Linked DNA regions of Homo sapiens. The protein of the gene in region 2 purifies or fractionates together with the protein of the main gene of each other region. This does not show direct contact. Each region holds a gene or a part of one and is shown on either strand. Other genes may lie near its edges. The genes, in order: POMP and LRRC56.

Evidence for each region.
Region 1: the proteins of LRRC56 (region 2) and POMP purify together in Homo sapiens (affinity purification with mass spectrometry; one large-scale study listed by BioGRID and IntAct). This does not show direct contact.

The regions. Positions count from the first base shown.
Region 1 is NC_000013.11:28,665,434-28,669,247, reverse strand, and holds part of POMP (proteasome maturation protein), read right to left. Parts: intron 776-3,814; coding exon 674-775; intron 1-673. UniProt on the Homo sapiens protein: Molecular chaperone essential for the assembly of standard proteasomes and immunoproteasomes. Degraded after completion of proteasome maturation. Mediates the association of 20S preproteasome with the endoplasmic reticulum.
Region 2 is NC_000011.10:551,019-554,832, reverse strand, and holds part of LRRC56 (leucine-rich repeat-containing protein 56), read right to left. Parts: intron 3,703-3,814; coding exon 3,531-3,702; intron 3,183-3,530; coding exon 3,006-3,182; intron 2,931-3,005; coding exon 2,866-2,930; intron 2,744-2,865; coding exon 2,601-2,743; intron 2,265-2,600; coding exon 2,131-2,264; intron 871-2,130; coding exon 557-870; 3' UTR 1-556. UniProt on the Homo sapiens protein: Required for the assembly of dynein arms.

The DNA.
Region 1 (3,814 bases), on a different chromosome or scaffold from region 2:
ACAGAAACAGTGGGTTAAATAAATAGCAGGGAAAGGAGTATAGAAAGCAAATGTAGACAACTTTTCAAGAAGCAAAAGCACACTCAATGAGAGACAAGTTACTATAAAGGAATTTGAAATTGATACAATTTTTTTTTGTTTTAAAAGACAACAGCGGTTCAAATGCTACTGCTGAGACAGAGCAAGCAGAGAGGGGTTAAAGATATCAGCTTGAGAAGGCATCATTGATAAAGGGATTTTCCTGAAGTAATGTAACAGGATAGAATCCAAAGCACAGGTAGGAGGGTGGTTCTTACATAATTGGAAGGACATTTTCCAAGTACTTATTCCTTAGAAACAGGTATATTCAACTATATACAAATTGTATACTTGACACCTCCACTTGGATATTCTTAGAGGGATCTCAAATTCAATGTAATACATAAAAAAAAAACCCAGAAAAACATGAAAGCAGATGCAGGTAAGTTTTCAGACACTGAGCCTGTAATTTGAAGTTTTCCATTTAATGACTTCTTTTTTCCCTCTATGAAGTAGAAATCAAGGTCATACCCTAAAAAGGGGGAGGGAAGTAGAATAGGTTGTAAGGTAGATAAGGTATAAATAGCTGTTATGAAAACAGAAGATTCCTCATGAATGATATCGACACATATGCAACAGAGATCCATCAACTCACCTGCTGCACTGCCTTGAATTCCATCTGTAATTTTAGCGGAGCAAATAGACCCTGAATGTTTCTCAGTGTGGAAAAATTCATTTTATCTTGGTTGAGCTGGAACTACAAAAGACAATGTAATTTTAAACATTACACTCAATACTCTGCTTTCAAAACAGTTAGCAGTGGCATATATATAACACAATAGTTAGATGAAGAATTTTAATATCCATACCTGTAATAAAAACTAAGTATTTTTACTAATTTTTTCTGACAAATTTTAGACCACATATGTCTATATTTCATTTAGCATGCAGGTGTACTTTTACCAGAGTAAAATTACTACCAAAATTCCAAATTTATAAAAGTAAAGGAATGTGTCTCCTATTCAAAAGTAGATTTACAAGACAATCATATTTTAGCGCTTTTGATTAAAAGTACTGCAAAACTAGCAAAGGTGTAATTTGAGATCCAGAAAATGTCACATCCACTGACAAAAATAGTTAATTTCTAAGTATGAAGGCATATATTTAAAAGGATTCAGCAAAAGAAATAATCTGACCACTAAATCATCCTGTTAATTAAACTATGTTTAAACTCCACTTATTTTTGGTACTTGCCTCAGGGGAAAAACAAACATCTCTCAAAAGTTTATTCAATTTGTATTGGGTACTAATCAGCAATTTTTCCTGGATCATACTTTCACTAAGTACTGATATTACATTTAGGGAACTTTGGCCATAACTTAATGTATTTCAGGCAAAATGAATCGACTTGACTCATGGATTCTAAAACAGTTTCCAAAAATGGCTCCTAAGGATAGTGAATGTAATATGCAAACAGACTGTTACAAAGATTTGTCTGAGCTAAGGTGATTATAATGAGGTAAAGTCATTTCTTGTCATTTTTTATTACACGCTACTCTCTTGATAACATTGTCTTCTAATAGTAATCAAAAAGGTCATTTTGAACAAAAATCTATTGAGAGATTAGCACCTACTTGGGATATGACTATGAAGTTTGAAAGTAAGGTGACTAACCAAATGCTTTTTAATTACTTTAGCTTTACACAGCAAATTTTGACAGATGGTCCTTAGGGAAAACCTGCAGTATTTTATTATGGGTATATGATCTGAAGTTCTAAGTGAAGGGTTTGCTTTAAATATTGGCTTATCCTCATGATAATACAATTTTATTCTAAGAGACGGGTCTTGCTATGTGGCTGGAGTGCAGTGGCTATTCACAGGCACGATTATAGAGCACTACAGCCTCGAATTACCAGGCTCAAGCAATCCCCCGCCTCAGCCTCCCACGCCGCTGGGACTACAGGCACACCCCACCACACCCAGCAGTAAATGTAATTTTATGTATAATAACTCAATTTATGTAAATTTTGATGAATACAGCCATCTTGTAATGTGATATTAATACTGTAATTATCAATCAACATGTAAGTTAGCAACCGTGTGCAAAATTAGGCTCTGTGGCAACACACAACAAAACTGAACAGCCTACCTTGGAGATTATAATCCAGTTTGGAAGACATTATGTATGTATCTCAACCCTCCGCACTACTGATTTCTTGGGCCAGATAATTCTTCACTGTGGCAGGCTGTCCTGTGTACTGTAGGATGTTTGGCAGCATCCCTGGCCTCTACCCCATAGATGCCAATATTACATCCCCCCATCCCCCACCGCACCACTTGTGACAACCTAAAATGTCCTCAGACTTTGCCAACTGTTCCCTTGTAGGGGGCAGGAGGATGATCCTCCCCTAGTTGAGAACCACTGGTACAAATGATGATGGCCATCTTCCATCACTATCACCACTGAAGCTCCCAATCATGCAGAGCTACTAGAGGCCAGCAATATGCCAAGGATGGGCTATTACTAACTCCAGATGAGAAGACTAAGGCTTAAAGAAAATTAAGCAATATGCCCCAAGTTTACTTAGCAAAGTGGGGTGCCCACATAGTTCAACTACACAATCCATGCTGAAGGATTTATAATAGACAGTAAGAGTCACATAAAGAGTGAGACTGCCATTAGCTGGCTAAATGATTAAAGAAGAAGAGATGCAGTAGATGTATGTAAGTCTCAAAAAGATCTCTGAAGTTTTTAGATTCTTCACAGTTCCACCTAGTCTCACTCAGATTTGTCAGTTTCTCTTAATATGTATTGCTTAGAACTAAACCAATATTCCAAATCTAATAGCCAGACTAATACACAGGAAAATAATATAATCTCCCTTGATTTGAGCCCCATCTTATTAACAAAGCCCAAGACTGCATTAACCTTTCTTTTTAGTAACTAACGTAATCTGCTGGCTTATAGTGAGTATACAGTCAATTAAAATAGTCAAGTTTTACAGAGCAAGTCACTTTACCCTGCCCAAAGGTGTAGAATTCATTTTTTGAATCCAAACGCAGAACTTCACACTCACCTCTATAAATGTTTTCCTTAAATTTTGGTCTAGACTTTGGTCTATTTTATCACCATGATATAGTTCAATTATTCAACAGAATGAACTATCCTTCTCAACCTTTTTTCCAAAAACCTAATATACATTCTTTCTTTGGTTGCCCACAAGTCCTTGAAAAATACTTATCCTTCCTATGTGTCCACCTGACTACCTAAGATGTAGACAGAGGCCAAAAAGCCCTATCAAAATATTCCCTCCAAATTGACTATTCCCTAATCACCGTTCTCTGGGTACAGTTACCAACCTCATATACTTTACCCTACACTACTTTCACTCGGTTAATAATCCACCATGTAATCCTCAATCTTATCCCTTGTCAGATAATTTGATCCCTTGACTGACCCATTTGGCAACTGAGTAAAAGAGTGAACTAAAATTAATTTGCTGAGTTCATTCAGATGCTGATGATCACTGCTTACCCTATTAAATGCTCACAGCTCACTCAATAGTCCACTTAAGAAACAGTTTCAGGGATCAATGTTACCACAGACAATCTTATTTTTTAGTTAGATCCTTTATACAAAAGTGGAATATGTATCCATCTATAACCAATTTTCATTTCTCCCATTAGTTCTCAAAGATGATCAACTGTGCTTTTATAATCATACTCACATACTTATAAGTGTACTCTGGGCTGTCAACTTCTGCACCTGAAACCTGAATTCACTTAAATCGATGAG
Region 2 (3,814 bases):
TTGGGTTCCGGGGCGTCCTGCGCCAAGAGGAGGGAACGGGCCGCCCTATCGCAGTGCGGGAACCCTACAGATCCCCCGGAGACGGGAGGCCTGGACCGCACCCCCGGCGGCCTCAGGCGAGCAGCTGGGACCTTGGGCCACTGCGGCCTAGGAGGTGGCTCTTACCCTGGGGCCGGCAAGGGAGTGGTGGACTCGCAGCTCCAGCCCCTGCCCCTCGGCCATGCCCAATTCTAGCAGGAGAGGCCTCTCACAGGCCTGCTCGGGTGACCACCCCCCACCCCCGTGCCCGCGGGAAAGCCTGGCCCTAAGGAAGGGCTGGGGAGCCGGACCCTCCCTCCCCAGGCCAAACCCAGTTGGGGGCCTAAACTGGGTTCCAGCCTCTGCTGCCTCCCTGGCTGGTCCCAGTCCCCCACTCCCCTCCACCAAGAGGGTCCTCCCCAGGGCCAGGCACTCCTTCCACCCCCCAACACACCCGCCCAGGTATTCTGTGCTCTGTGACCACATATGTGGGCAAGTCGTGGCCCCAGCACAGGGAAGCCTGGCAGTGGGGGCTATATTAAGTGGGGACGGGGCTGGGGTGAGAGAGTTCAGCTGCCCTGGGAGGTCTAGCTGCTGCATCTGGTGCTGGCTTTGGGCCAGGACATCCCTGGGCTCGAGGGCTCAGGCGTGAGGCCACCTCCAGGGCTCTCAGGACAGGCACTGCAGCCACCCCATCACCCAGGCCAGGCCCCCAGCTGCCCAGGACTCGGAGCCGACGCCCCCTGGACTGCAGGTCTGTCGACCACCGCGGGGAGCTGCTGCCAGAATCTCGTGGCCTTGGGTGCTTGGGAGGTGAAGGGACCAGGTGCTGGCTCGAGGTCCCGGAGGGCTCTAGAAAGCAAGCAGAGTGATGGGACGTCAGAAAGGCTGTCAGGGAAGGGAGTCACCCGGTGGGGAGGCCACAGCCCACCCGTGGCCCTGCAGCCCCGAGGCAGTGGTCCTTGGGGGTCCACAGGCAGCAGCACCCCTGCACCCCACTTTCTGTGTTCCCAGCCCTGTGACCCCTGACTCGCATGGGCGGGCCCACCTCTGGGGCAGGCAAGGAGGCCACGAAGCCTGGTTCTGGCCCTGGGTCCTCTGTGTCCTGTCCCTGAGAAGGAGACCACAAGGCCTGGCTCTGACCCTCGGTCATCTGTGTCCTGACCCTGAGAGCCTGTTCACTGGCTGACCGCCCCGGGCCGGTTCCCAAGCCTTGGGTCCCCCAGCACCCGCCTCCACCGGTGTCTGGAGCCCTGGCATGCCTTTGTCCTGACCCTGCCCTGAGGCCACTGCAGCTCCCCTCCTCCTGGCCGCCCTGCCTGCCCTCCCTCCACCCCTGCAGGTCACGGCCACTAGGTAACCAGCTGTTGACCCCTCTGTCTGCCCCCTCCACAGACACCCACCACCATATGGAAGAGCAGAGGCTTGGCCTGCCCTGTTCCCTGCCCATCCCAGCCCCCTTAACCAGGCTCCTGCACAGAGGAGGGTCAGCTGCCCACCGTGGGGTCGCCCCTGCTTACACTGCCCCCTGCCCGGCCTGCCTGCCCGCTGAGGGAGGGTCCTCTCTGCTTTGCAGCTGTGATCACACTGAAGTCAGTGTCCTTCGTAAAGGGCACTGCATGGCTTAATTCTATGTCCCCAAGTGCGCGTGCCATCTTCAGGGTGAAGCGGCAGCACCCTCCTGCCTTGGTCTCCCAGTGGGGCTGCTGGCCGCCTTTCCTCCCAGCCCCCGGACTCATGCCTGTGTCCCTGAAAGCTGCCCAGTGGCCATGTTCTGCCTGCTGGTGCCCTGGGGTGGCTCCTTCTTTCTGTCCCGACTCCTCTGGACTCTGTTCATACCCCCTTTTGTGGAACGCCTCTCTTTCGTCCAGCCCGGGTGGCACACAAGGTCACAGGGATTGGACCGTGGCTTGGGAGAGGACTTGGGTTGGGCCTCCCTTGGTCGTGAGCCCCCCACCCCCAGAAGGGGGCCTCCCTGTTACAGTCCCTCTCAGAGCATGGCTGAGGAAGCAGGGCCAGGTTGACACATCTGATCTGGGGTAAGGGCCCCCCTATAGAAGTGGGGTGTTGGTCACTCCCAGGCACTGGGGGGCAGGCGGGCAGGCTCAGTACCTGAGGCCAGGCTTGGGGGGCTGGAGGGAGTCTTGGGCTCTGCCTGGTGCACTTGCTCTTCAGGGACCCTCCGTGGGCCCCAGGGGGCTACAGCCCCTTCCTGTTGGGACTCCGGGTGCCTATAGGGGAGGGGGCTAGGGTGGGGAGAGGAGGAGAAGCTCCAGCCCTGATCCCCCCACGGGACAGGACACATAGGGATGGTCCATGAGCCTTGGGACTGGGGATGACTCAGCCAAGGTAGCCCCAGCCCTGATCCCCCCACGGGACAGGACACACAGGGATGGTCCACGAGCCTTGGGACCAGCGATGACTCAGCCAAGGTAGCCCCAGCCCTGATCCCCCCACGGGACAGGACATGCAGGGATGGTCCACGAGCCTTGGGACTGGGGATGACTCAGCCAAGGTAGCCCCAGCCCTGATTTCCCCACGGGACAGGACACACCCAGTGGAAGAGCTGGAGGGACACCCACCGCACGCCATGTTCCCTCCAGGCCCTGAGCCCAGCCAAGGCCAGGAAGTCAGAGCTGTCTGCAGGGTCAGGCTCTGGGGTGGAAGTGCTGGCGGCCGGATCTCCTGGCCTGTGTTGGGGCAGCTGCTCGGGGGGCTCCCTGGCCTGGGGAGGAAAAGGGACTGCTTTAGGGATTCTGGCCCTGGAATGGCGGCAGGGCAGGGCACTGTCAGGGCCGCAACCCTGGACACTGGTTCTCGTGGGGGGCTGGTCCCTGTGGGCTGTACCTGGCACTGGTGCCTACGCTCCCGCAGGCCCTTGGTGGGGTTCCCACAGAGGACTTGGCCAGCACCTGCAAGAGACAGCATGGCTGGGCCTGGTTCGGGGCCGAGGGGCTGCAGGGTCAGCTTTGAGGCAAGTCAGTTACCATGGGTGAGGCTGCTGGTGTTATCTTCTGGGGCCAGGTCCTCAGAAAGCAGGCCTTCAGGCAGGGGGCCCCCACGGACCAGCAGGGAGAAGGGCCAGGGCCTGGAGGCCCGGGACTGCGTCTCAGGCAGGGACAGCTCGGGGTCAAGTCTCCGGATGGGGGCTCCACGGGGACAGTCTGCCCGAGGTTCAGAAGCAGAGGTCACCAAGGCCCAGCCTGAGAGCGCCCCCCAGACTCTGTCCACAGACCAGGGGCCCCAATCCCCATGCTGCATGGCCTGAGGCTGGCCTCTCACGCTGCAGCCTTCTAGAGAGGCCCTCATCTTCAGACCTTCCTCTCCCTCTGTGGGCTGCTCAGAGACAGTGTCCTGGCCTGGGGCCGGGTGTGCACAGCTCTGGGGACCGGGGTCAAGGCTGGAGAAGCGCATGAGATGTGGCTATCCGTTTCTGAGAAGCCTGGGGTGGGGGCCTCTTCCTGGGGGGAGCTGGGGCTCAGCAGTGGGTCCTCCGGGCGCAGCTGCCGTACCCAGCGGGGGAAGGCCGTTGCCCTTCTTGATGGCCTCCTTCACCGCAAGCCAGTCCTGGCTCAGCCGCGGGGGGGCCGGTGGGCCTGTGTGTGCGGCCGGCACTTCGTCCAGGACCTGCAGCTGGGGAATGAGCTTCCTCACCTCTGCCCTGTAGTTGTAGCCCCTGGGCACCTGCAGGGGGAGGGGGAGGGGGAGGGAGGGCAGGTCTGGGTCCAGTGTTTCCTTCCGGCCAGCTCTTTCCCTGGCTCCCTTTCCCAGACCCACCGTGGGGCAGGGCAGGGGC